Homo sapiens: one gene and its partners. The protein of the gene in region 6 purifies or fractionates together with the protein of the main gene of each other region. This does not show direct contact. Each region holds a gene or a part of one and is shown on either strand. Other genes may lie near its edges. The genes, in order: ACSL3, PDGFRL, MYO5B, RAB40C, SCCPDH, PPP6R2 and SLC25A16.

Region 1 (4,160 bases), on a different chromosome or scaffold from region 6:
TTTCTATATTTTAAGATATTTTTATTTAAAAAAAAAAAAAGCAAAGAAAGTTAACTAAAGTAAAGATTACTAAAAAGAGCCTTCGAGGAAAAGTGCCCATTACAGTTTTGTACTGTTAAGTATAATGGACAAAGAATGGTACCTTAGCTCAAATAATGAAACGATTAGAGGAAGGCCGAGACAAAAATGTGAAGAACAGAGAAAAAGGAGCACAGGTTAACTACAGTGTCAAAAATTAAAACAAAGACTTGTGTTCAATAATACTTAACGGTAATAATGTTTGTAATAACAAAAAAAATGGAAACAGCCTAAAAGTCTATCAAGAGAGCAAAGGGGAAATAAATATGGTATAGACCTAAAATGTACTAACTTGTCACAGTAAAAATAAATGACCTAAATCTACATGAACCCACACTGATGAATTGAGTTGAAACTCAATTCATGAAACCACACTGCTAAGTGATTTTGAGTGGGGATAAAATAAACAGTATGCTGAACAAGAATACATGCAGTACCATCTATATAAAGTTTAAGAATACACAAAACAATACTATACACTGTCTAAGGAAACACACATGTGTAATAAAGCTGTACAGAAATACATAGGAATAATAAACACCAAATTCAGAGCAGTGGTTAGCTGTAAGATTTGGGGGAAAGGAGTGGGTTTCTTTAAGTGGATTAAATTTTATGAAATATTTTTCAAACATACAGAAAGTGCGTCAATATTTTAGTTAAAAGACAGGAAAAGAAAATGGAATTAGCAGACTATGGGATCCCAAATTCCTTTATATTCCAATCTAAAAAGTCAATAACAATTCCTGCGAAGTAAGGTTAAAGGGGAAAGCATCCTGAGGAATTATGTTCAAGTCCAAAAAGAAAATTCTAGGCCGGGCATGGTGGTTCACATCTGCAATCCCAGTACTTTGGGAGGCTGAGATGGGCAGATCACGAGGTCAGGAGTTAGAGACCAGCCTGGCCAACATGGTGAAACCCCATCTCTACCAAAAATACAAAAATTAGCCGAGTGTGGTGGTGGGTACTTGTAATTCCAGCTCCTCGGGAGGCTGCGGCAGGAGAATTGCTTGAACCCGGGAGGCGGAGGTTGCAGTGAGCAGAGATCACACCACTGCACTCCAGCATAGGTGACAGAGCAAGACTCTGTCTCAAAAAAAAAAAAGAAAAAGAAAAAAAAGAAAATTCTAGTTAAATTCTCTCAATTTCCTTATGATTTCCCCGGGGCGGGGGGGGGGGGGGGGGGGGGGGGCGGGGGGGGCAGGGCAGTTTTATTTGGGGCAGCAACTTTGTGTAATTAAAACAGACATAAAACTGCCCCTAAATGTCATCACAGCTCCTTTCCCTACACAATCATGCCTTCAAAGGTTAACATGAACTTCAAACTGTCACTCCAGAGAGGAGATGCAGCGCCCAGGTTAAGAACAGGGACTCTGGAACCAAAGTGCCTGGGATGAAATCCAGCACACATTTAGCACACAATCGTGCAAGTCACTTAAATTGCTCTGTGCTTCAGTTTCCTCAGCTGTAAAAATTAGAATGATAAAAGAACCTATTTTGCAGTCAGCGCAGTAGCTCCCAGCCTGTAATCCCAGTACTTTGGGAGGGCGAGGCGGGCGGATCACAAGGTCAGAAGATCAAGACCATCCTGACTAACATGGTGAAACCCCATCTCTACCGAAAATACAAAAAATTAGCCGGGCATGGTGGTGGGCACCTGTAGTCCCAGCTACTCAGGAGGCTGAGGCAGGAGAATGGCGTGAACCCGGGAAGCGGAGCTTACAGTGAGCCGAGATCATGCCACTGCACTCCAGCCAGGGGGACAGAGCGAGACTCCGTCTCAAAAAAAAAAAAGTACCTATTTTGCAAGGCTGAGATAAAAATTAGAACAGCATTTGGCCACAGTATACTATAAAGGTGTTGGCTATTATCCTTATTCCAAAGACCATTCATTTAGAAAAACAAAAACTAGGCTTTGTATCCAAATAATATAATTAAGTTCAGTTACTTTCTGCATCAAATAGGAGACAGAAAAGTTGACCATGACAGGACAGGGGAAAATGTGCAGCTTTTCACAGCTAGAGCAATCAACATGAGGATAGTAAGATAAGCAATTTTTAATTTTTCTAACAATATTCTTTGGTAGCGTTATAACATCTCCAATGCGTACACATCTGTGTACACACACACACACACACACACACACACACAGAGGATCCAAAATCAAGGTAAAACATTCTATTTCCTGGCTCCCTGTTGACCTGGGAAAACTCCAGTTCATCTTGGAAAACCTAGTTCAGCTATCATCTCCACTGAGAAGTCTCCCCTTTTCCTTCCCTACTCTGTGCCTGCTCTGCACTTTTTCTCTATTTCCTAGCAGATTCCACTGCTGCACTGATTATACCATCCTGTAATATATTTGCTCATATACCTTCTTCTGTTCCACCATGCTGTAATTTGTTCATACACCTCTTTCCTGTGGTGAACTGTGAGCTCCTTAAGAGCAGGAACTCGCCCAATCATTTCCAAATTCCGAGTACCTTGCAAAACAGACACTAAGTAAATACATGAATGAATGAATCCTTAATAACAAATACCTTCACAAACAAGCAGAAAGCTGTATTTGGAGGCCACTTATCCAAAAGGTTGGTTATTTAAGTATCTTCAATTCTAAACAAAAATTAGCAGATCAGTTGAAACTACTGAATCATCCAATTCTTTACCCTTCAAAATGGGAAACATCAAAAATACGTAAATAAACATATTCCAATAATAACAGAAGCTAAACTTTAAATTAAAAGAATTAAGGCACCTATGATGTCAGGAAAACAGAAACCGTCTGAAAGCTTTTTTCTAATGAAACCAAAAATAAACATGTAAGGAAGGCACCACAGGATTTAACATTTACAATGTCTCCTTTTTCAGAAAATAAATAAATTACAATCAAAAGTCAGATGAAAATATATACTCTATTGAGGGATGAAATTAAGACTGAGCCACATTTTAAATCAATCACACAATGCTCTTGCAACAAAGTTTTCTAAAAGACTGTCATGAGTCAACTAAAATTGGGCTAATTTTTAGAAATTTAACAGTTCTTGACAATTTTTGGCATTTGCTTAGTACTCCATAGGTTACAGGCCTGTATTCTGTTACTGTGGAAGGTGTCCCCTCCTCCCAGCAAAGACACAGGCCTCAGTTGTACTTTGGGTCCCATCCCAACCCCATCCTTTTAGGAACTCTGCACAAACCCTTTTCTAGTCTATATTCAACCACTCCCTCTCCACTGAGCCTTCCCATCAGCATTTAAACATGCTGAAATCAAACCTATTGGAAACAGTTTCTGTCTCCGTTTTCCTCACCTCCCACTGCTCCCCATCCCACCCCTACCTGCAGATCAGCATCTCTTTCAAAGGTCACCAGTGACCTCCATGTTGCTAAATTCAATGATGGTTCTCAATTCTTCTCTCATAGGAGCATTCCACAGTACTGACTCATCGCCTTGCAGGAACATCTGTTTCTGGCTGTCCTCTGACCTTCCTGGCCACTCTTGTCTCCTTGACAAGCTCAACCTCCTCTGCCCAGCTCCATCCCAGGCCTCCTTCTCTTCTTATTCTATAGCCTCCCCACAGGCAATCTCACCCATACCCATGGTTTGAGCTCTTGCCTCTACATGGAGGTCTTCAAAACGGTAAATGGCCACCCCAATTCTCAGCACAAAACCAGTACCTCAATAAAGGCCTCAAAGGCAGCTCCAGCTGAACACTTCCAAAACTAAAGTCATGCCCTTCCCATATCCAGAACCTAGTTCTCTACCAGTTAAGCCCCAGCTCAGTGAATAGCACACATACCTCTTTAGTTGCATAGGTCTGAAACCTAGTAATCACTTAGCACCTCTTTCTCCCACTCCATTTACTATTTATCACCATATCCTGACAATTTTTTATCTCCATTTTCTCAGTATTTCTGTTTATCATATATGGCTCTTAAAAGGATCAGATGAGATATGCTAGCACTTTGAAAAAAAAAAACCTTAAATTTGAGTATTAGTATACATTAACTGAAATCTCTTTGAAAGCAGTAACTTTGGCAAGTTCATCTTTTTTATTTATGCCACATGGTACCCCTAGGACGGTGTTTTGCAT
Region 2 (4,160 bases), on a different chromosome or scaffold from region 6:
GAGGCAACTTTTGTTTTAAAAGTGTGTAGAATAATCTGAAGCGATAAGCAGAGCCATTAGTCGAATAAGTGAACCGTGTGAATTTAAGAACACAAAAATATCTTCTTGTATTTTTATTTTTTGAGACAGGGTCTCACGCTGTTGCCCAGGCTGGAGTGCAGTGGCACCATCATGACTTACTGCAGTTTCAACCTCCAGGGCTCAAATGATCCTCCCACCTCAGCCTCCTGAGTAGCTGGGACTACAGGCACGTGCCACCATGCCTGTCTAATTTTTTATTTTTTAGTTTTTCTAGAGTCAGGGTCTCACTATGTTGCCCAGGCTGGTCTCAAACTCCTGGACTCAAGCAGTCCTCCTGCCTTGGCCTCCCAAAGTGCTGAGATTACAGGCATGAGCCAATGTTCCCAGCCTTACTTCTTATACTATAATATATACTTTACTTCTTATACTATAATACATACTTTGAAATGTGACCAAACCAGTTGCTTTAAAAATATATTTGCAATCCGTAGCTTCCATCAACAATAACAAAGTGTTGAAGTTTGTTTTAATAATTATAGATTACACATGTCCCCTGCAAATGTATTTATATCCACTTATCTAGAAGACAAATGTTTTACTTAAAGAAAACTAAACACATGGGATTTTAGATTAAAAAAAAAAACTCGACCAGGTGCAGTGGCTCACGCCTGTAATCCCGGCACTTTGGGAGGCCAAGGCAGGCGGATCATGAGGTCAGGAGACCGAGACCCTCCTGGACAACATGGTGAAACCCCATCTCTGCTAAAAATACAAAGATTCGTTGGGCACTGTGGCGCATGCCTGTAATCCCAGCTACTCGGGAGGCTGAGGCAGGAGAATCGCTCGAACCGGGGAGTCGGAGGTTGCAGTGAGCTGAGATGGTGCCACTGCACTCCAATCTGGCAACAGAGGGAGACTCCATCTCAAAAAAGACAAAAAAACAAAAAAATGCGGGGGGGGGAGGGATAGCTTTAGGAGATATACCTAATGCTAAATGACGAGTTAATGGGTGCAGCACACCAGCATGGCACATGTATACATATGTAACTAACCTGCACATTGTGCACATGTACCCTAAAACTTAAAGTATAATAATAATAAATAAAAATAAAAATAAAAAAATAAATAAATGCAAGTTAACAAGCTATAAACTAAATCCAAATTACAACAAATTCAGTATTTTGAGACAGTCTCACTCCGTCACCCAGGCTGGAATGCAGTGGTGCCATCTCGGCTCACTGCAACTTTGACTCGCTGCCTCCTGGGTGTAAGCAATTCTTGTGCCTCAGCCTCCCGAGTAGCTGGAATTACAGGCGTGTGCCACCATGCCCACCTAATTTTTGCATTTTAGTACAGAGGGAGTTTCGCCATGTTGGTTAGGCTGGTCTTGAACTCCTGACCTCAAGTGATCCGCCTGCCTCGGCTTCCCAAAGTGCTAGGGGATTATAGGCATGAGCCACTGCACCCAGCCAGGAAAGTACTTATTAATGTGGTTTTCCTACGTATAAAAATTAGAGCCTCAGCCTTTTACTATGAGAAAGCTCTGCTGCTGGTAATGTTCTCATCCTTGATCTGGGTGGGAGTTACATGTGCCTGTTTGCTTAAGGATAATTTATTGAGCTGTATTCTGAGAATTTGAATGTTTTTCTTTACATATGTTATACTACAATAAGAAGTGAAAGAGAAGCAGGGAAAACCTTCCAAGATCCTCCTGGATCAAGATGAAAGAGGAAATACATACGGCAATTATTTAATCACAAACTGCACACTAACAACAGTCAGTCCCCCAAAAGAAGCTTCAGTGTTTTTAATCAAACTCTAGGAAACATACAAACATAATGAATGACAAACATTTCTCCACATGGGTAGCCAGGAAACACATGTTCTGAAAGAATCCTGAGCCAGCAGTGAGAACCTCAGCTTCTGTAACAGCCCATCTTGGTTTCTCAAAGCCATCCATGCTTGAAAAGACAAATTGCCAAACCCTATAGTAAAAATCCAACTGGACTCCTAGCTTAGTGTTGACAAATAAGAAAAAATAAATGATGTATAACACATTAGGTCAAATGTGTTACAGCATTTATTTTTTTTGATCAAAGTTTCTTGATAGTTGGAATGAATATATTTTAGCTTTTCTTTGGTTCCCAAAATTAGTTCAGTTAAAAAAAAAACAAAAAGGTTCCGCCTCCAAAACTCAAAGAGAGCCCGTATTTTTTTTTTTTGAGGTAAAGTCTTGCTCTGTCGCCCAGGTTGGAGTGCAGTGGCGCAATCTTGACTCACTGCAACCACCAACTCCGAGATTCAGGCGATCCTCCTGCTTCAGCCTCCTGAGCAGCTGGGAGCACAACTGTGCACCACCACGCCCAGCTAACTTTTGTATTTTTGTAGAGATGGGATTTCTCCATGTTGGCCAGGCTGTTCTCGAACTCCTGACCTCAGGTGATCCGCCCGCCGTGGCCTCCCAAAGTGCTGGATTACAGGTATGAGCTACCATGCCTGGCCAAGAGCCCATAATATTAATAGGATATTCTGCCCAAGCTAAGCCTGCAGTTCAAAACCTCGACCAATACTTTGGGAAGACACAACAGTGCTAATCTTGGCAAAGAATCTTCCTTCTGCAACTTGAAATGTGGAATCAGTCATTGACTTGAATAACAGACTTTTATTCATCTTAGTTGGTTGCTTTTTCCACTGTTGCTTCACAGCATGGTATAATACAAAGGGCACATTTACAATCTTGTGTAGCGAGTTCCAAAATGAAGATCCAAAGAGATTGCCTATGAACAATTATTAGCAATTCTCCTGACAACACCAGTTATGCTAGCTAGAATCTGGCTATCAGTCCATCCTTCACCTTGTCCTACAAAAGGTTCAAGGCAGTAAAAACACTGGATCCTGGGTCAGAAAAACAGGTTTGGCTCCTTATTGTGCCACTACAGGTCCTGGAACATTGAGGCTCAGCATGAGCATTAGTACTTCTAGTATTTTGGAGATAATAAAATAGCTTTTGCTTATTTCCCAGGGATGTTGTGGAATGAAACTGATAGAGGCAGGAGGCAGAGAACTCTCCTAAGCAGATACGGGAATGTCCTTAGAGAACCTCTGACCTACCAAGGTCATTGTGCACAGGGGTCTTGCCTAAACATACCCCCAGTGAAAAATTCCATCCCTTAACACACATGCAGTAAGGGAAATAAATCAACGTGGAGTGACTCAGATTAAGGGCCTGCAGGTACACTGAAAGGATGGGGTGGAGCCGCCAGGAATTCACGCCTCTTACAAACAGGGAACCCAGCCCTACCGAGGGAACATAGAAGCCCTTGTATTCAATTGTGTGGAGAGCAACCTGCAACCTGCTTTCAGGACCCCTCTTTTTGCTGAGAGCTTTCCTTTTCGCATAATAAATTCTACTCCACGCACTCTTTTAAGTGTCTGTGTGCCTAAGTTTTCCTGGCATGAGACAAGAACTTGGATCTCTGAACTAAGGAGTAAAAAGTCTGCATCAAAATGAGATACATGTGCTTCCAGAACTGCAGCATACCCTACTAATGCATCTCCTTGCCAGAGAGGAGCTATTTGGGCAGGAAAGGACAAATACATAAGATTGTACTAAAACATTCTTTAATGGTCAGGGCATAACATCCTTTGGGTCATAGGCCTATGTCTAGGTCTAGGCCTATGTCTAGGTCTACGTCTGAAAGGTAGGTGGATTCAAGGCATGGAGAAATTTCATGAAAGTCCCTGCCCAGGCACTAACAAAGGATTCTGGTTTCACCTGAAATGTCTTGGACGACAATAGGACGAGGGTGGCTTTGTAAGATTCCTGAAAGCTCTTACTGACTTCTGAACCTTGCTGGAGAACTTCATCCCCTAAACTTCAGAACTTAGAGAACATTACAGAAGAAAGAGGCTGAGCAGTTATTCTGCACACGTGTTTCTCAAAATGCAAGCTCCATCTTCCAGAAACATACTTTGCACTGCAGAGAAGAGTTCTCCACTCTGACCTGAACATTTTGAGGCAGTCCACTGAGGCTTAGGGACAGGGACTGGAGACACAACAGCCACAATCTTTGGGAATCTTGCCCCCGAAATCTCAGCTCATAGTATTCACAAGAACAAACAGGGCTGAGCAGAATGGC
Region 3 (4,160 bases), on a different chromosome or scaffold from region 6:
CTTAACCTATTATGAACTTGATTCATGGAAAAAAGCAGGAGTGTTCATGCGAAAGGACACAGCAGTCGGCACGATGCATCAGTATTTATTAGACACTTGCTTTGAACCAAGCAGTGTACTTGGGCACTGAACATGAAATCAGAATTGAGAAATGAGAGCAGTTACATTTTCAATCGGAAGAAAAATTATGTGTAGATGCATTACTCACTGTGCTCTGCAAAGGCTGGGAAGGAAAGTGTACCTGGACCTATTCATAATGCTTTCCCCAGGTTCTTACAACACAAGTAGGTTATGAGTGAATCCCAAGAAGGACCAATCTAGAAATACATTACTTGAAATGAGGTTCATTCCAAACCCTCCTTCCTGTCTGGAAATCTTTTTATAAGGCACCAGACAGAGGGAGAACTGACATATCAAGCTGGAGATACTCAGAATAATGTGAAGGTTAATAGCAGCAGTTCTGGAGTCAGACAGACTTGGGTTTAAATCCTGGCCCTGCCACTCCCTATCAGTGTGACCTCAGACAAGTTATTTAACCGCTTTATACCTCAACTTCCTCATAAAAATGGGTAGTACTTTATAGAGTTGTTGGAAGATTGAAAGAGATACTGAACATAAAGCCCCTGGTGCATAGGTAATGGCTGCTTAGTAAGTATGACGGACCAATGAAGCTCTTATTTACATAGTCAGTGGCTGGACGAGGATGACACCCAGGTTGCTCAATTCTCAAACTGTGGACTTCAGCACAGGCGATACCAAATCGAGCTGGTACATGCCCATCATCTTTGTCTAATTGCCAGTAAATTAAATGAAAATGCTGTCCACAGCTGTTTTATTCCATACAGAAATCAACACATTAGAAATTTTTTGCCAAATGTTATAAGTTCCTAAGCATGTCAACATTGCACACCTCTGGATGGTATCATTGCTAAAGCCCGGAGCACTAAATGATTTGAGTGGTCCAATCTTTGCATTGTTAGTGGGGAATGCAAGCTTCTCTAACTGTGCTTTTATTTCAGTTTCTGCCATGTTGGAAAATGAGAGCATTCAGGGTCTATCTGGTGTGAAGCCCACCGGCTACCGGAAGCGCTCCTCCAGCATGGCAGATGGGGATAACTCATACTGCCTGGAAGCTATCATCCGCCAGATGAATGCCTTTCATACAGTCATGTGTGACCAGGGCTTGGACCCTGAGATCATCCTGCAGGTATTCAAACAGCTCTTCTACATGATCAACGCAGTGACTCTTAACAACCTGCTCTTGCGGAAGGACGTCTGCTCTTGGAGCACAGGCATGCAACTCAGGTAAGGGAGGAGCACCCCCCAACAACACAGATAGAGTGGGCCCTCACTGACTGCAGCTAGAATCAGAACACAAGACTGCTGTTTCTAAAAATGAAATCCAAATCTAATTGACAGTCCTTGTCTCCATCAGTCTGTGACTCAAATCCATCACCTTTTTACCTGTTGGTGAAATCCGTCGAACACTGAGATGGTTGACTTGGTAAACAAATTAGTTCAAAGCTTAAAGATGTTGACATACTCTAAGTTAAAGACTGAATACAAAGCAGATAGGTCAGAGAGAAAACTCAATGAGTTAAGAGGCATGAAGGCTCACATAGAAGTATAAATACATTTGTGAATGTTAAATATAAATACTTACAATTCAGTATATTTAATGCCTGTTTTTCCCTGTTAACTTATGTAGACACTTCAGGTATTTCATCTTTGCTTGATTTTAAGTACCCACTCATTCATTTATTCATTCTTTATTCAACAAATAGTTCCTGAGTGCAAGGCACTTGCCATGCTTTTTAACCGTGTGAGATAAATAATGGCACTAGCTGCAGCGGGCCTGCAAAACACAACAGGTGTCCCCTTCTCAGTGAATTAGGAGGACCGGCTTAACATAGCTTGCTTTCTACCTATGGCTAAGGTACAATATAAGTCAGCTTGAGGAGTGGCTTCGGGGAAGAAACCTTCACCAGAGTGGAGCAGTTCAGACCATGGAACCTCTGATCCAAGCAGCCCAGCTCCTGCAATTAAAGAAGAAAACCCAGGAGGACGCAGAGGCTATCTGCTCCCTGTGTACCTCCCTCAGCACCCAGCAGGTACAGTCACTTTGCACCTCTGTCAACATGGTATTCCAAGGAAGCCCTGAGTCCATTCCAAGTCTGTTCTCGTTGGTGGTTATTTGTTAGTGTTGCACTCCCACCCTTTATATACCCCTAATGAGACAATTTTGAAGTGCAGCTGATGGGATATTCCTAGATGAACCAAAAACCATTTGGTCTGTGAAACAAGATGCCACAGATACTGTTTTCTAGTAACTCTCTATCCCTCTTACTCACTTAAAAAGATAAGGTAGCAAACTCACAAAACGTTAAGTTTAGGTAAAAACTTCTTTAAATATAATGAATTCTGGAATGTTTCTTACATAGAAATCCACAAATTTTCAGAAATTGGCAGCATCAGGTATTTGCTTTCTTTACAAATATAACTGTAAGAAAAACCTTTTCTTTAAAACTAATTGCAATATGGTCATATTTTCACTCACACTCATTTATATTGTTTTAAATGAAGTCATTAAGAACTTAGGGGCATTTAAGTGTTACTTTCCTTTTCCCTAAAAAATGTATAACCATGATTCAGTTGCCGACACATTGCCAGTCCCTGAAAGATAAATAACAAAATCCAAACTCAGTACAGAAAAACACATCTTAATATAGCAAAGTGAACACCTTTCCTTACCTCCTCTGCTTACTATTAAAATATTAAATATCTAACTCTTTAAAAAACTGCTTCCTTCTGTAAACATTTCCAGAAAGTCTTCAAACATTTTTCTTCTCTTTAAATACATTTCACTTAAAGTAAGTTTCCTTCTAGATGCAGCTGGCATTGCATTTGGGCAGTCTACTTCCACCAAACCAGTGGTAGGCAGACAAAAGAGTATCTCCTGTTCAAATACTCATTTGTAAACAATGTTGGGGGACAGGGGGTAGTTAGGTATTAAACAAGACCTTTCTCATCTAAGGTAAGATCTCCAGTACTCTTCAGAAGAAACCTTTAAATTACTAGTAGATATGAGGCTGAGGATTTCAGGCAACTGCATTCTAAACTCCTCATTGTGTATACCAATGAGCATAGTGGGGAGGGGCAGGTGGGTTTACAGGAGACATGAGTTCGGTGAGAGGGCTCAGATCCACCTGACAAAGCTGTGGGCTCTAGTTTCCTGGATGCAGGCTCCAAGTGTAAATGTCAGTCCAGCTCCATCTGTGTTGTGGGCCTTGTCTAAAGAGGATCATACTCTTGTACCAATGTCACATATTCTTTAAAGTTCAAAAGTTGTCTCATGTTCATTTAGCTCTGTGCTAAATTCCGTTTTTATCCCCAACAGATTGTCAAAATTTTAAACCTTTATACTCCCCTGAATGAATTTGAAGAACGGGTAACAGTGGCCTTTATACGAACAATCCAGGTGAGTTTTAAGATAGTAATTTTATAAAGTCCAGTCTACGACTATAAAGGAAATTAAAAATTTGGGCTTTAATCTTGCTTCTCTTTATTACTAAAATACTGGTTACATATATGCTGGGAGACCTTACATTCCTAGACTTTCTACTTAGGTAAACATGAACCGTATCACCCATGAGTAACTTACTGTTTACACACAGAAAACTCAACTTTTATCATCTCTGCCTCTCAGATTATAGACATAGTTTAAGCATTATGTCATTTGCCACTAGCATGTTACTGAACTATTAGCACCAAATGGAATTAACAATGTCAGCAGAATATCAGCCCTAACCATAAATGGAACTAAGAAATGTTCTTTAAAGAAAGCAATTTGAGCTCTTAAATCTTTGTCTAAGACTTATAATATAGGCCAGGTGCGGTGGCTCACTCCTGTAATCCCAGCACTTTGGGAGGCCGAGGTGGGTGGATCACGAGGTCAGGAGATCAAGACCATCCTGGCTAACACGGTGAAACCCGGTCTCTACTAAAAATACAAAAAATTAGCCGGGCGTGGTGGTGGGCGCCTGTAGTCCCAGCTACTCGGGAGGCTGAGGCAGGAGAATGGCGTGAACCTGGGAGGCGGAGCTTGCAGTGAGCCGAGATTGCGCCACTGAACTCCAGCCTGGGCGACAGAGTGAGACTCT
Region 4 (4,160 bases), on a different chromosome or scaffold from region 6:
AGCACAGGGGAGCACACTGCTCACACTCAGAGCCCTGTCGGGCGAAACGGTGACATCACAGGCCCATTCCCCTATGCCCGCCTCTCCCCAACGTCCACTCCCACCCTACAATTCTGCAACCAGATCCAGCCAATGAGCTGTGATCCACCCTACTCCTAGGCTGACAAAACCTTCACGTAATGGAAGAGCCTATCACACAAGAGGCTGAGGCTGAAAGAAGAGGGCACTGTCCATCTGAAAATTAGGGTTTTTAGAGCCTCTTAGAACCATCTTTCGATATCTGGAAGACTGAAGTGTAGCCCCAGGTCCTGTTTAGAACAAGGTTGACATTACTAAGCTCCCAGGGCGAAGGCCTTGCTCAGGATGGAGCGACAGCTCAGGAAGGACACCTCTCGCTGAGGGAGACCCTTCGAGGCCAGAGATGGCCAAGTCAGTCTGGTGGGCGATAAATGATAAGATTCAGAATAAACAAATGCACACCCAGGGGTTAACCCTGGAGGTTGGGGCACAGGGACTGGGGCTGGCTCATTTGCTGCTGGGGGAGGTGGAGAGACTGGGGAGTGGGCCACCAAAGCGTACAACACAGCCCACTCTCCCTAGTGGCAACCTCCCGCATGGCAACCTCCCGCATGGCAAGCCCACAACTCAGAAGTAACTGAGGATGTGTGTCACAGTGGCGCTGATAACAACGACAAGCCAGACACAAATTAAATGTCCAGCCTCAGGGGACAGCTGAGTAAGCGGCAGTGAAATGTACCGTGCAGATGCTGAAGACAGCAGCAGTGCATGTAAAAGCGTGCATGCTGGCCAAGGAGAGATGTGCAACCCAGGTGAGGTAAGAACGCAGGTCCCAGCACTGCGGATGGCATTTTCTTTTTTTTTGAAACAGGGTCTCACTCTGTCAGCCAGGCTGGGGTTCATGCAGTGGCACGATCATGGCTCACTGCAGCCTGATATTCTGAGCCTCAGCTTCCTGAGTGGCTGGGAATACAGGTGTGAACCACCACATCTGGCTAAGTTTTTTTAAACATTTTTTAGAGATGGGATCTTGCTATGTTGCCCAGGCTGGTCTTGAACCCCTGGCCTCAAGTGATCCTCCTGCCTCAACTTCCTAAAGTGCTGGGATCAGAGGTGTGAGCCACTGTGCCCAGCCCAGCATGATTTCTTTTTTTTTTTTTTTTGAGACGGAGTCTCACTCTGTCGCCCAGGCTGGAGTGCAGCCGCACGATCTCCGCTTCCGGGTTCACGCCATTCTCCTGCCTCAGTCTCCTGAGTAGCTGGGACTACAGGCGCCCGCCACCATGCCCGGCTAATTTTTTTGTATTTTTTTTTAGTAGAGACAGGGTTTCACCGTGTTAGCCAGGATGGTCTTGATCTCCTGACCTCCCGATCTGCCCACCTCGGCCTCCCAAAGTGCTGGGATGACAGGCGTGAGCCACCGCGCCCGGCCCAGCATGATTTTTAAAAAATAAAAGTATGAACACACAACACATTACACTGAAGAAGTTTATATGGACATAAAACAAATGCTAAAAGGCTGGAGAGGGGTAACTTTTGATGCTGACCTGTTTTCTGTGGCAAACACCCCTATTCGCATGACACTGAAAACTCTAGAAAGAGAGCAGAAGGCCCGCCTCCCGGCTGATGGGCTGCCTCAGGCTCCAAGTGTGCTGTGACGCGGGGGGCCCTGGCCACACCTCCCGGCTGCTGCCCTGAGCGGGCCCCCACTTCCTGGGATGGCCATGTCTGAGGAGTAGGGGTTACGGGCAGGGGCGATGGCACAGGAGGACCCGGAGGCTTGCTCCGGCGTGGGTCACAGTGAGGCCGCAGGGACCCAAATGACCACGGAGTGAGAAACCAAAAGGAGACTCTCGGTGACCAGCAGCCGCCTAACGAACGGCACCCTAAGCACCCTCAGCTGCGTGTCTCAAGGGGCAGAGCACGGGACAAACAGACTCTTCCACTGCCTTCTGTTTTCTAAAACTGATCTGATTTTTAAAAAACTAGCGACTTCGGCCAGGCGCCGTGGCTCACGCCTGCGATCCCAGCACTTTGGGAGGCCGAGGCAGGCGGATCACGAGGTCAAGAGATGGAGACCATCCTGGCCAACATGGTGAAACCCCGTCTCTACTAAAAATACAAAAATTAGCTGGACGCGGTGGTGCACACCTAGTTCTAGCTACTCGGGAGCCTGAGGCAGGAGAATGGCGTGAACCCGGGAGGCGGAGGTTGCAGTGAGCCGAGATCGCGCCACGGCACTCCAGCCTGGCGACAGAGCCAGACCGTGTCTCAAAAAACAAAACAAAAGAACGAGCGAGTGCTCTAGGGGATGAGTCAGGACGCGCGCTCGCCCTGCTCTAGGCCCCTCTAGGAGCCGCCCTGACAGTCAGTTTCCTCAGCGTCTACAGACGTGTCCACGGTGCCGCTCATGCCTCGCGGGCGGGGTCAAGGGGGTGGAGGCACTTGGCGCTGCTCCCACCCGCACGCCCTGAGCTCAGGCCCAGCACCCCCGCCTGCTCGTGAACTGGTACTGCGCCAGCTCTTGGGTAACGGTGGCAATATGCATCTGAGCACGTTTACACCTTTTTTTGATCAACTCGACCTACACGATAAATTCCCAGAAGTAGAACTGCTGGGCCTAAGAGTGGGTGTCCTTTTTGCTATCATTTTTTACTGAGCTGTAACTTACAAAGCACAAAATACAAAGATCCGAGGTTTGAACATTTTGATGAATTTTGACAAACACATGCCCCTTCCACCCATGTGGCTGAAGCTCCCAAGGTACAGCCAGCGAGAGTGAAGCCCTCCTCCTGCATCCCTGCACCCAGGCTCTGCCCAGGAGCAACTGACATGTAAAATGGGAGCTACTGCCAAGCCGCGCCCACTCACATCCACCCGCCCACCTGTGTGCCGACAAGCCAGCAGCACGTGTGCCTCCCGTACCACGCTCCACATAAACCCCCTCTCAGGGAAACAAATCCACACCTTTGTCCTGAAGCAGACATGGCACTTGGCCACAGCCTTCCTGGCACTAAGCCCGCTGACCCCAAATTCTCAGCTAAACAGGATGGCACATCCCGTCAGCCACACTGCAGTTACAAGGAGCCTACCCCACCCTCCACACACCAAGGGACCTGCACCTGGGTGACCCACTCATCCCACCAGCGGGTTGTGGCACCCGCTTCTGAGAGGGGCCGTCTCAGATCACAGCAACAGAATATGCAAACACGACCATGAAGTCTAGGGAGCCCGGCCTTCGGCGGCACGTGAAGGGCCTCGCGGGAAGAGCCGCGGGACTGCTGCTGTGTGACAGGTGACGGCAGCGGGGAGTGGCCGGTGGCCTTTGCTGGTGCCATCTGCAAGACCCAGGCCGCGGGGACCTTCCAGGCCTCTCCACTCTCTAACGGAGGGAGGCAGAGTGACAAATCCCGGCTGGGACAGACAGTCCTTGCTAGTCTGTGTCTCATCAGGGGCGGCGGGAGAAACCCTGCTGCAAACCTGGGCTCTGCACCTCGGCTGGATGCACCCGCACCTCACCGCTGCTCACCAGGCAGGAGAGACACAGGACAGGGCTGGGCTCCCGGGGTGGCCCAAATGCTCAGTCACGGCGGTCAGAGGCCCGCCTGGAGACTCAGGTGCTTCTCCCGGGGCAAGGAAGCACCTGGCACCCTCAACCCAGGACCAACATGTGCACCTGGGTCTGTAACCTGCTCCTCGCATGTGGAAAATGACAGCTCAGAATTTCCAGAGTTAACAAGACAAAACAAAGACATAACCAGTTGTGCCAGATGCTTTGGAAAGAACACGGAGATGATAACAGAGCTTGCTTTCCAGGACCTCAGCCTGGCAAATGCAGAGCTTATGAACTGCTTTTTTCTTTTTTAGTTCTCATGCAGCTGAACAGAAATCACGACTGTACTGGCCTCGTGTCCCACAGACCTCCCTGTGTGGGAGCTGGGATGCCTGCGGTGGAGCCCGTCGGGGGGGGTGGCTGGGATGCCCGCGGTGGAGCCCGTCGGCGGGGGGCTGGGATGCCCGCGGTGGAGCCCGTCGGCGGGGGGCTGGGATGCCCGCGGTGGAGCCCGTCGGCGGGGGGCTGGGATGCCCGCGGTGGAGCCCATCGGGGGGGGCTGGGATGCCCGCGGTGGAGCCCGTCGGGG
Region 5 (4,160 bases), on a different chromosome or scaffold from region 6:
AGTCAGTCCATATAGTAACCGTTAACGGAACGTCATGTTTTTGTAAACATTAACATGGATAAAAGTTCTGATATTTACTTCCACCCTCAGTGGATCATTCTGCGCTTCCCTTAGGGGAAGACTACTTGGGAGACCACTGGGTTAGAAGATGGAACTTTGAGGGCCAGGCGCGGTGGGTCATGCCTGGAATCCCAAACCTCTGGGAGGCTGAGGTGGGCAGATCACTTGAGGTCGGGAGTTTGAGACCAGCCTGGCCAACATGGTGAAACCCTGTCTCTACTAAAAATACAAAAAATTAGCTGGGCATGGTGGTACACACTTGTAATTGCAGCTACTCGGGAGGCTGACGCAAGAGAATCACTTGAATCCGGGAGGCGGAGGTTACAGTGAGCTGAGATTGCGCCATTGTATTCAAGCCTGGGCAGCAAGAATGAAACTCCAGCTCAAAAAGAAAAAAGAAGAAGATGAGACATGGAGAGCAGGATTGCGGTTCTGACCTTTGAGCCAATTGGCCTCACAGGGGAGAAGTGTCTCCCCGAGATGAAGGATTGCTACTCTGACTGTTCACCTGTCTCAGACAAGCACAGGGTACTAAGTGGAGAAAAATCTAGCAAGTTCATAAAATAGGAATAAGTTAGTGAGAAGTCTCAACTCCAGATTACTCAAAGAAGTGGGCCAGATGTGACAAAATGCAGTAAAAGTAAGGAATGGGCAGACTGGCAAATAGGAAAATGCGTTTTCTTTCCAGAAGGAGCTACGATTATTTTAATAAGCTCATTAATACTTCACTGCAGCCTGCCAGTACTCATAGATACACTGCCTAGCTGATGGGCTCACTAGCCAGACATGAGAAGTGAGCCTGTGGCTGTAAGGCAGAGCCTGGAGGAGCTGGGAGTTGGCCCAGCAGAATGAAGGGAGGGTGCTCCAGGTAGTGGAAGCAAGCACACTGGGTGTGAAGAAGCAGCATGCTTGGGGAATTACATGGAATTTAGAACTGCTGGAACATGAGAATTAAGGGGCTGTGGTATGATATGATACTAAGGACTTTCTGTGACATGCTAAGAAATTTGGACTTTGTACTATATACTGTAGGGATTTTTTTGTTTTTGTTATTTTTATTTAAGTTCTAGGGTACATGTGCACAACATGCAGGCTCGTTACATAGGTATACATGTGCCATGCTGGCCTGCTGCACCCATCAACCCGTCATTTACATTAGGTATTTCTCTCAATGCTATCCCTACCCCTGCCCCCCACCCCACGACAGGCCCCAGTGTATGATGTTCCCCACCCTGTGTCCAAGTGTTCTCATTGTTCAGTTCCCACCTGTGAGTGAGATCATGCGGTATTTGGTTTTCTGTCCTTGTGATAGTTTGCTCAGAATGATGGTTTCCAGCTTCATCCATGTCCCTGCAAAGGACATGAACTCATCCTTTTTTATGCCTGTATAGTATTCCATGGTGTATATGTGCCACGTTTTCTTAATCCAGTCTATCAGATTTGAAGAGTGGATATGTTATAGGAGTGAGGCAGGAGGAAAGGTGACATCACATTTTTATTTTAGAATAACAATTTGTTATGTATTTGGAGATGGGGCTAGCTGGCTGCAGTATAACCAGTTAGGGCCTATTTATAGTAAATTAGATGAGTGTTGACAGGGTCTGAACTAAGATATAATTGTGCAGGGGAGAGGAGACTGATTTGAGATAATTTTAGGAAACTGAATTGATAAAACTTGGTGACTTCCAGGATAGGTAGCATGAAAGACTGCTTCCAGATTTTTTTTTTTTTGAGGCGGTTCTTGCTCTGTCACCCAGGCGGAAATGCAGTGGTGCGATCTAGGCTCACTGCAACCTCCACCTCCCGGGTTCAAGCAATTCTCCTGTCTCAGCCTCCTGAGTAGCTGGAACTACAGGCTCATGCCGCCACACCTAGCTAATTTTTATATTTTTAGTCGAGACAGGGTTTTACCAAATTGGTCAGGCTAGTCTTGAACTCCTGACCTCAGGTGATCCACCTGCCTCGGCCTCCCAAAGTGCTGGGATTACAGGCATGAGCCACCACACCCAGCCTGCTTCCAGGTTTTAACCTGAGAATTATGTGGGGAGTAATGCCATTAAATAAAAAAAAGAAGCCATCTGAGTACCATGTGCCTGGCCCCACACTAAGCTCTTTGTATTCTCTTATTTCATCCTCACAACTACCCAGGGAAGTGAGTGTTGTTATTCATCACCATTCTTTGATTGAAGAGGTTGATGCTTAGAGAGGTAAAGTGACTTGCCCAGGGTCACACAGCTAGTGGCTGCAGAGCCTGGATGTAAGTGTGGCCTGACTTAAAGCCCACACTCTAGACCACTCTGCTGTTCAGCCATTTGCTCAGTTTTGTCTCAGAGTCTTCCCTCTTTTGAGCACAACAGAAAGATGTTAGAAGTGGGACCCAGGCAGGCTGAACTAGAGGCTATACTTTGTTTTTTATTTTTATTTTTTTGAGATGGGGGTCTCACTTTGTTGCCCAGGCTGGAGTAGAGTGGCACGAACACAGCTCACTGCTGCCTCAACCTCCTGGGCTCAAGGGATCTTCCAGCCTCAGCCCTGAAAGTAGCTGGGACTATAGACTGGTGCTATCACATCTGGCTAATTTTTGTATTTTTTGTAGAGACAGGGTTTTGCCCTGTTGCCCAGGCTGGTCTCTAGCTCTTGAGCTCAAGTGATTCACTCACCTTGGCCTCCCAAAGTGTTGGGATTACAGACGTGAGCCACTGTGCCTGGCCATGTGTTTATATATATATGCCATATATATATAGTCCTTATATGTATAATATATATATATAATAAGTATATGGCCTCTATATATAGTCCGTAGCATCATATTTTATACACACACACACACACACACACTTTTTTTCTTAGAGAAATGGGGTCTCAAAGCGATCCTTCTGCCTCAGCCTCCCAAAGTGCTGAGATTACAGGTTTGAGCCACCACACCTGGCCTAGAGGCTACACATTGAAGCACGTGCTAGGAAGTGGAGGAGGAGAAATAGGTTTAGAGAGAGAGATGATGAATTCGGTTTTAGACTTGTTGAAATTGAGGTGTCTGCTAGATACCTTGCATCAAGACAGAAAATACAAATAATATACTGTTTGTATATGATGTTTTATAAGTAAGTGAGAAAATCAGGGGGAAGAGAAAATAAAAGGAAAATGTAGGCAAAGTGAAATTAGTTTTATGTGTGACTCATGCTACATGTCCTGTGCTCTCACTGGTCCTGACCTTTCTAACAAAAAACAGAGGGAAATCCTATCAGTGAGCAACTCTAGACATAGAGGTTGGAGGTCACAGCACAGATTTTATTGAAGTTGGGAGAGTAGGTGAGATTTCCTGGGAGAATGTCTGGGGCAGTGATTCTCCATCTTTGAAGTACACAAGAATCACCTGTGAGGCTTATTTACAATGCAAGTTACTGGAGTCTACCTCAGAAAGCCTGATTCTGGGGGTCTGGAGTGGGAGTGAGTGACCAGCATGCAACCCAGGTGATTCTAAAGCAGGTGGACTCATGGCCAACTTGAGAAATTTGGGGGTGAAATAACTTAAGAACAAGGCCGAGAAAGCTCCAAATGAGTTTTAAAATGGATGTGTGCAAACCCTAAGGATCAACCAGGATAATCCACTGGGTGCAGAAAGCATATGGAGCTTCAACTTCTGTTTTAATCTCAACTTTAGTTCTATTTAAATATGTTTAAAATGTGTGTTTTATTCATTTGGTAGGCAATTTAAGTGATTTATAAGTAAATTCATATAGTTAGTAGGTGATGGATTCCAGGTGTGAACTTGGGTCTTACTGCCTTGAAATCCTTTGTTCCATGATACCATACTGCCTCAGAAGTAGAGTTCTTCATTAATTTCATGTGGTTTGTTAATGGGAGGGTAGGAACTCGAATTTCACACACTTCTCCCAGTCCTGTAATTCCAGTGTTATCCGCCATTCTTAGTAAGAGGTGTGAGGTCTTGGAGTTAGGTAAGAGGGCAGCCCATCTGACCTATTTGTAAAGGTCGATTGTGTCTTTTAAGTGTCCCTTGTTCCTCAAAGGCTGGAAGAAAGAAACGATTTCCTTGTTCCATCTTTTGCTGCCAGGAATGAATAAAGCAGAGGAGTTTGTGC
Region 6 (4,160 bases):
CAGCAGCAGGGAGAGCCGCGCCTCGTGCAGAGTGCGCTCCAAGTAGACTCACTTGATGTTGTCGTCCTGGTCGGCAAACTCCTCATCATTGAAGCCAAACTGATCCACGAAGTTGGCTGTCATCTGCTGGATCTGGTAGTCAGAGAAGGCCTGGGAGGGAGGGAGGGAGGGAGGGACGGACAGACACCGGTCATGGAGGAGGCATCAGGCCTGGAGGCTGCTCTTTGGGAACCACAATCTCTCTAGTTGTTCGGGAGCTTCTCCTCCAGCACAAGTGGGCAGTAAACTCTGTTCAGGGCTCACGATTCTACCAAAACTCAGGCTGCGCGCTCGCTGCGGTCACATCTGAGATACGCCCCATATTCTCTGACTTTCGAGTCCATCTGCCGTGTCCTCAGTGCTCTCATCAAGGTGGAGTGACTTTGGGGTTCTCCCTTCAGACCCACCCCGCCCCATACGTGCTCGGAGACGAGCCCCCGCTCCCCTTTGCTAGTGAGATGCCATCAGACTCGTCTGGAGGACCAAGCGCAGCGCACACAGGTGCCGGGAAGGGCCCGGCAGGGTGCAGGTGCCGGCCACGCCCTCACCTGCTGAAGGGACAGCTCGTTAGGGAAAGCACCCTCAATGTCCTCGTCCTCACTTGAGGAGTGAAGGTGGTGAGTGCTCACCTAAAACACAGGCCAGATGGGGTGGGCGTGTGAGCCAGCCCAGCGCCCCAGACCCCACCCAGCCCAGCGCCCAGGACCATGCCCAGCCCAGGGCTCCCAGACCCCACCCAGCACATCACTCATCAGATCTCTGGGCCCAGGAGGCCGTGCTGTGTAAGGAGGTGCCTAGGTGAGGCCAAGGCCCCGTGACAGCCCGACCTCCATGTGCAGGGGGCAGGTTGTGGGTCTCAGGCAAAAGGAGCCCTCTGCCAACAAGCTACAGCTCCTGGAGTGGGAGGAAAGGGACCTGAGGCCAACACCGGCTCTGCACAGAGGTCCTCAGAGACCCAGCCCTGGGTGTGGCACAGGACGGGGTCTCTGTTACGGACATCAGCCCGGAGGACACACTATGCAGGGGCACCGCATAGTCAAGAGGAGCAGGCAGGCGTGCGGCCCTTGTGCCTCCCTTGGCCTCTGCCTCAGGGCAAAGGCAGGAGCGTCTGACGGCGTCCCAGCACCGTGCGTGCACCGAGGGGGCAGCCCCGAGCCTCCTCACCAGGTCCACAGTGTTCCTGCGGTTCGTCTCCGTCAGCGTCTCCTCCACGAAGCTCTCCCAGCGGCCACGGCAGTCCGCAGGGAGCCCTGCAAGGGAAGTGCTGCCTGGTGAGCCCTGGGAGACCCCGTGCAGATGGTGCAGGGCACCCGGGGGCTCCGGCAGGTGCATCCTGGGTCCGGGAGGATGGGGCGCTGCTACTGTGGTCAGCCCGTCTGAGGGCCTGAAGCAGGGGCTTTGCCGGATGAGAAAGAGGCAGCATAGCCGCGTGTCCGGAGGGGCCTGGGGCCACAGTGAGATTGAGGTGCAGCACCTGTGGGCAGGGTGGTGGGCACTTCTGCCCCTACCGAAACCCCAGTGGGCATCTGAGTTCCAAGTCTGTTGGGTGGAAGCCCATTCTGAGGAACTCCCAGAAACGCAGAAGCCGTGGAACAGAATCTGAGAAAGCAGCCAGCTTCCTTCCCCCCACCTCACAGGCCCAAACTCAGCAGCAGCCTACAGGCCTGGGCGCGTGTCCTGCCTGTTTTTCCGGGGAGGTCAGAGTCCTGGAAGGATTCACAATCTGGAGATCGTATGGAATGATCCAACAGCTTCCTGCTTGCCCCTCGCCTCCTTAAACTGCCCCTGCCCTGGGGAGCTGTCCCTGGCCTCCACCTCCACCCATCTACTTTGCCCTCCAGGATGTGGGGAAGCTCCTCCTGCCCTGCTTTTATTATTTGTGATGGCAGCCGGCAGGCCTGACCTCGCCAGGGGCTAATGGAGCCCAACCCAGGAGTCCCCTCACTATGGTCCTGGGGTGCGGGGAGGACTATCCAGAGCTTCCTCACCTTACACGGGTATAGGGAGGAGAGGCCACAGCTGGGCCCGCCTCTGCCACACATGTGCTGTGCCTGCGCCCACCTAACCCACTGCGTTCTTAAGAAACAGGCTGCAACCTGCTCCCCTGAGACTTGTGCTACGAAATCTCACACCTGAGTGAGAATGAGACTCTCCAATCACCTGAGTGCAGAGCACACAGCCAGGACAGCCTAGCCAGGCAGGGCTCCCTGAGCTGCAAGGAGCCCGGTGGCGCTAACGGCTTCTGAGTGCCAGCTCCGGAGTCACCAACTACCCCGGGAGGGACTGTCTCTTGTGCCACACGCTGACGCCTGGCAGGGTCTCCACAGAAGTCCGCCCAATAGAACTGACACATGAGACCCAGGCCCCCACGAGGAGAGATGTGATGTGTGAAGTGAGAGGACAGAGGTGGCCATGGGTCTCTCACTGTCAGTGCAGTCAGCACCTGCTGCCGGGCAGAGCTTAGTCTCAGGCGGCAGCTCCTTCGGGGTCCCGGTGCCCGCGACCAGCAGAAGGATGACCGGGTTGGGGGCTCACCTCGGATGACCTCGCTGATGTGCGTCTGCACAGGGCCCCGCTCCAGGTTCTGCACCACCGCGTTGGCGATCCGTGTGAGGTGGCCCATGTTCCCACGTCTCATGCCACCCGCTGCCCTGAAAGCAACAGGCACCATCGGGGCGGCCTCCTGGCCCCGACCTTGCCAGACCCACGACCCAGAGAGCCAAGTGGCAGAGGCCTCCAGGTTCACTTCGGAGAGCAAGTGCCCGGCCCCTGCCCAGTGTCCGCGCCCCCGGCCCTCCTCCAGGTTCACCTCCAGAGCAAATGCCCGGCCCCTGCCCAGCATCCATGCCCCCGGCCCTCCTCCAGGTTCACCTCCAGGGCAAGTGCCCGGCCCCTGCCCAGTGTCCGCGCACCCGGCCCTCCTCCAGGTTCACCTCCAGGGCAAGTGCCCGGCCCCTGCCCAGCATCCATGCCCCCGGCCCTCCTCCAGAGCAAATGCCCGGCCCCTGCCCAGCATCCATGCCCCCGGCCCTCCTCCAGGTTCACCTCCAGGGCAAATGCCCGGCCCCTGCCCAGCGTCCGCGCCCCCGGCCCTCCTCCAGGTTCACCTCCAGGGCAAATGCCCGGCCCCTGCCCAGCATCCATCCCCCGGCCCTCCTCCAGGTTCACCTCCAGAGCAAATGCCCGGCCCCTGCCCAGCGTCCGCGCCCCCGGCCCTCCTCCAGGTTCACCTCCAGGGCAAATGCCCGGCCCCTGCCCAGCATCCATGCCCCCGGCCCTCCTCCAGGTTCACCTCCAGAGCAAATGCCCGGCCCCTGCCCAGCATCCATGCCCCCGGCCCTCCTCCAGGTTCACCTCCAGGGCAAGTGCCCGGCCCCTGCCCAGCATCCATGCCCCCAGCCCTCCTCCAGGTTCACCTCCAGAGCAAATGCCCAGCCCCTGCCCAGCGTCTGCGCCCCCGGCCCTCCTCCAGGTTCACCTCCAGAGCAAATGCCCGGCCCCTGCCCAGCATCCATGCCCCCGGCCCTCCTCCAGGTTCACCTCCAGGGCAAATGCCCGGCCCCTGCCCAGCGTCCGCGCCCCCGGCCCTCCTCCAGGTTCACCTCCAGAGCAAATGCCCGGCCCCTGCCCAGCATCCATGCCCCCGGCCCTCCTCCAGGTTCACCTCCAGAGCAAATGCCCGGCCCCTGCCCAGCGTCTGCGCCCCCGGCCCTCCTCCAGGTTCACCTCCAGAGCAAATGCCCGGCCCCTGCCCAGCATCCATGCCCCCGGCCCTCCTCCAGGTTCACCTCCAGGGCAAATGCCCGGCCCCTGCCCAGCATCCATGCCCCCGGCCCTCCTCCAGGTTCACCTCCAGGGCAAATGCCTGGCCCCTGCCCAGCGTCCGCGCCCCCGGCCCTCCTCCAGGTTCACCTCCAGAGCAAATGCCCGGCCCCTGCCCAGCATCCATGCCCCCGGCCCTCCTCCAGGTTCACCTCCAGAGCAAATGCCCGGCCCCTGCCCAGCATCCATGCCCCCGGCCCTCCTCCAGGTTCACCTCCAGAGCAAATGCCCGGCCCCTGCCCAGCGTCCGCGCCCCCAGCCCTCCTCCAGGTTCACCTCCAGAGCAAATGCCCGGCCCC
Region 7 (3,500 bases), on a different chromosome or scaffold from region 6:
GTCTACTTAAATATTCTACTATAGAGCAAATCATCTAACAAAAACAAATCTATAGTGTTACTTTTTTTTTAAGAGCAAAGATATTCAGTATTTTTATTTCTGCCTCTGGGAAACACACTGACATTTTAAAACACATGTAAGTCACTCATAGTACCTCATAATAACATTTGAGCAAGACTTAGTCGTTCATTCATTTATTAAGTGGGGTTTCATGATGTTGCATAGGCTGGCATGGAATTCCAGGGCTCAAGTGATCCTCTCACCTCAGCTTCCAGAGTAGCTGGGACCACATGCCCATCCCACCATGTCCAGCTTCTTCATTTATTTTTGTGTCTCTACATGGCTACCTTTTAAATACAACATTAATTTTATTTAAAAAATGAAGGAAAGAAGTGTTTTTCCTATTATCCAGTGGAGCATAATTGTGAGAAGAGAGATAACAAAAATAAAATGTCAATGCTGGCTGTTTCATAGAACTTAAAAATTCAATTCTCATTATTCTATTGCAATATAACCAACCCTGTTTATTTTAATAATAATAAACACTGTCAGTCTTTTAAAAACCATGATAACAATTAAAAACTTTGAACAGCATGACAAAGCTAATGGCAACCTCTTGAACCCCGTTTTAAAGCTAGTTCTACTTCCAAATAAAACTTTAAAGCGGTTTAGCCAGCATCAGCTTAGGAATATTTTCTTCAATGTTCTAAGGTATAATGTTTGGCATCAAAAAGTATGGTAAGCAGTTCTGATTTGTGACTAAAGAAAAAATAATCAAGTACTAAAATACCAGTGGCTCTTGTGACAGGGTAAATATCCCCATTCAAGTAATGTTCCCCCCACAATTATAGTAATGTTTCATTTCTCCCTCTGAGAATGTATTAAGAAAAACCAACCATAATTTTTTTTTAGTTGAGGTGAAAAAACTGCTTCATAAGTTCGTATGTTGTAAAAGCCACTGCTTGAGAGGGAATACAGCGAATGTAATTAAGAGATAAACCACGATAGAGTCCTTTTCGAATTCCATGGTGTCCATAGACATACTTCATAGTATCCCGCATGGTACTGAAAGACAATGATTAAATGATGACCTCTATGCCCACTCATGAAGAAACAATTTCAGGATCCATAATATCAATTTTGTTTTTTTGAGATGGACTCTTGCTCTGTCACCCAGATGGGAGTGTGGATTGCAGTGGCATGATCTTGGCTCACTGCAGCCTCTGCCTCCCAGGTTCAAGTGATTCTCCTGCTTCAGTCTCCTGAGTAGCTGGGATTACAGGCACGCGCCACCATGCCCAGCTAATTTTTGTAATTTTTAGTAGAGACGGGGTTTCTCCATGTTGCCCAGGCCAGTCTCAAACTCCTGACCTCAGGTGATCCACCCACCTTGGCCTCCCAAAGTGCTGGGATTACAGACATAAGCCACCTCGCTCGGCCCATAATATTAATTTTTAAAGAAGGTTAAATGCCATCTTGAATAGCTTTAGAAAGACAAATGTTTTAACAAGTGAAAATTTTTTCATAATAAAAAGGCAAGTCATTCTAAACAAGTACAAGCATTATGCATCAAATTTCAGGACTCATTAGTACAACATATTTTGTTTGTACTATGTCTATGACATTTACTGGACAACAACTATTTCATACTTATATTTGAAATACTAATGCAATCCTTTTAAAGGATGTATATCCAGTTGCCCTTTAAGCCTTTATTATAGCTCAAGTTGTATAGTATCAACAGCAGGTGGTTATAGAACTAAAGCTTGAAGGACTATCTTTCAGATTTCAGCAATGAACACTTTCCTGTTTCAGAGTTGTTCCTTTCCTTTCAAACCAATAATTTGGGCTTGGGCTTTCCCTTTCAATAGGCAATCTGGACCGAAATCTTTTCAAAAATCTTTTTTTTTTTTTTTTTTTAAGAGACAGGTTCTCACTCTGTTGCCTAGGCTGGAGTGCAGTGGCAATCATAGCTCACAACAGCCTCCAACTCCTGGGCACAAGCAATCCTCCCACCTCAGCCTCTTCAGTAGCTGAGACTACAGGCACACACCACCATGCCTCACTAAATTTTTTGTTTGTTTGTTTTTAGTTAAAAAAAATTTTTTTAGAGCCAAGGTCTTACAATGTTTTCCAAGCTGATCTCAAACTCCTGGCCTCAAGTGAACCTCCCACCTCAGCCTCTCAAGTAGCTGGATACAACAAGCACAGGGTAATGCTCCCAGCCCAAAAAATCTTTTGGGTGAACACGGCAATCCAAATTCATGAACAAATGTTCTGCTCTTCCCCTGAGAGACAACATATCACCAATCAAATGGAATGGTTCTAAATTACTATAAAGAAAACTCTGGAGCTGTGCTATACAATCACAGCAGCCACTAGCCACATATGGCTATTAAGCACTTGAAATGTGGCAGTCCAAATCAAGACGTGCTGTGAGTGTAAAATACACCCTGGATTTCAAATAGTTTGTATTTAAAAAAAAGAAACAAAATAATGAAATGTTGAGGTGATAAAAGTTTAGGTTAAACAAAAAATATTTTTAACAATTATATATATATTTTTTCTTCTTTTTCTTTTCTTTTTTATTGACACGCAGCCTCGCTGCCAGGCTGGAGTGCAGTAGCACGATCTCGGCTCACTGCAACCTCCGTCTCCTGGGCTCAAGTGATTCTTGTGCCTCAGCTTCCAGAGTATCTGGGACTACAGGCGCACACCGCCACACCCAGCTAATTTTTTTGTATTTTTAGTAGAGATGGGGTTTCACCATGTTGACCAGGATGGTCTTGATCTCCTGACCTTGTGATCCTCCCGCGTCAGCCTCCCAAAGTGCTGGGATTACAGGTGTGAGCCACCGCGTCCCAGCCCTTTTTCTTTTTTAGACAGAGTCTCGCTCTGTCGCCCAGGCTGGAGTGCAGTGGCATGATCTTGGCTAACTGCAACCTCCGCCTCCCAGGTTCAAGCAATTCCCTGCCTCAGCCTCCTGAGTAGCTGGTATGACAGGCACCTGCCACCAGCCCAGCTAATTTTTTTTGTATTTTTAGTAGAGACAGGTTTCACCATCTTGGCCAGGTTGGTCTTGAACTCCTGACCTCATGATCCACCCACCTCTGCCTCCCAAAGTGCTGGGATTATAGGCGTGAGCCACTGCGACAGGCCTTTTTTGTTTTTTTCAGAGTCTCACTCTGTCACCTAGGCTGGAGTACAGTGGCGCCATCTCAGCTCTTTGCCTCCTGGGTTCAAGCAATTATCGTGCCTCAGCCTCCTAAGCAATATTTTTTTTTTTTTTTTTGAGATGGAGTCTCACTCTATCGCCCAGGCTGGAGTGCAGTGGTGCGATCTCGGCTCACTGCAAGCTCCGCCTCCTGGGTTCACACGATTCTCCTGCCTCAGCCTCCCGAGTAGCTGGGACTACAGGTGCCTGCCACCACACCCGGCTAATTTTTTGTATTTTTACTAGAGACGGGATTTCACCATGTTAGCCAGGAGTACCAGACCAG

The links.
Region 1: the proteins of PPP6R2 (region 6) and ACSL3 purify together in Homo sapiens (affinity purification with mass spectrometry; one large-scale study listed by BioGRID and IntAct). This does not show direct contact.
Region 2: the proteins of PPP6R2 (region 6) and PDGFRL purify together in Homo sapiens (co-immunoprecipitation; one large-scale study listed by IntAct). This does not show direct contact.
Region 3: the proteins of PPP6R2 (region 6) and MYO5B purify together in Homo sapiens (affinity purification with mass spectrometry; 2 studies listed by BioGRID and IntAct, with this or other methods). This does not show direct contact.
Region 4: the proteins of PPP6R2 (region 6) and RAB40C purify together in Homo sapiens (affinity purification with western blotting; one study listed by BioGRID). This does not show direct contact.
Region 5: the proteins of PPP6R2 (region 6) and SCCPDH purify together in Homo sapiens (affinity purification with mass spectrometry; 2 studies listed by BioGRID and IntAct, with this or other methods). This does not show direct contact.
Region 7: the proteins of PPP6R2 (region 6) and SLC25A16 purify together in Homo sapiens (affinity purification with mass spectrometry; 2 studies listed by BioGRID and IntAct, with this or other methods). This does not show direct contact.

Annotation. Positions count from the first base shown.
Region 1 is NC_000002.12:222,863,861-222,868,020, reverse strand, and holds part of ACSL3 (fatty acid CoA ligase Acsl3), read right to left. Parts: intron 1-4,160. UniProt on the Homo sapiens protein: Acyl-CoA synthetases (ACSL) activates long-chain fatty acids for both synthesis of cellular lipids, and degradation via beta-oxidation.
Region 2 is NC_000008.11:17,621,957-17,626,116, reverse strand, and holds part of PDGFRL (platelet-derived growth factor receptor-like protein precursor), read right to left. Parts: intron 1-4,160.
Region 3 is NC_000018.10:49,834,662-49,838,821, reverse strand, and holds part of MYO5B (unconventional myosin-Vb), read left to right. Parts: intron 1-1,019; coding exon 1,020-1,305; intron 1,306-1,936; coding exon 1,937-2,111; intron 2,112-3,397; coding exon 3,398-3,478; intron 3,479-4,160. UniProt on the Homo sapiens protein: May be involved in vesicular trafficking via its association with the CART complex. The CART complex is necessary for efficient transferrin receptor recycling but not for EGFR degradation.
Region 4 is NC_000016.10:620,658-624,817, reverse strand, and holds part of RAB40C (ras-related protein Rab-40C), read right to left. Parts: intron 1-4,160. UniProt on the Homo sapiens protein: RAB40C small GTPase acts as substrate-recognition component of the ECS(RAB40C) E3 ubiquitin ligase complex which mediates the ubiquitination and subsequent proteasomal degradation of target proteins.
Region 5 is NC_000001.11:246,730,616-246,734,775, forward strand, and holds part of SCCPDH (saccharopine dehydrogenase-like oxidoreductase), read left to right. Parts: intron 1-4,160.
Region 6 is NC_000022.11:50,433,496-50,437,655, reverse strand, and holds part of PPP6R2 (serine/threonine-protein phosphatase 6 regulatory subunit 2), read right to left. Parts: intron 2,691-4,160; coding exon 2,575-2,690; intron 1,290-2,574; coding exon 1,204-1,289; intron 669-1,203; coding exon 588-668; intron 151-587; coding exon 53-150; intron 1-52. UniProt on the Homo sapiens protein: Regulatory subunit of protein phosphatase 6 (PP6). May function as a scaffolding PP6 subunit. Involved in the PP6-mediated dephosphorylation of NFKBIE opposing its degradation in response to TNF-alpha.
Region 7 is NC_000010.11:68,482,524-68,486,023, forward strand, and holds part of SLC25A16 (solute carrier family 25 member 16), read right to left. Parts: intron 1,094-3,500; coding exon of another isoform or gene 1,066-1,093; coding exon 909-1,065; 3' UTR 1-908. UniProt on the Homo sapiens protein: May be involved in the transport of coenzyme A in the mitochondrial matrix. Very little is known about the physiological function of this carrier.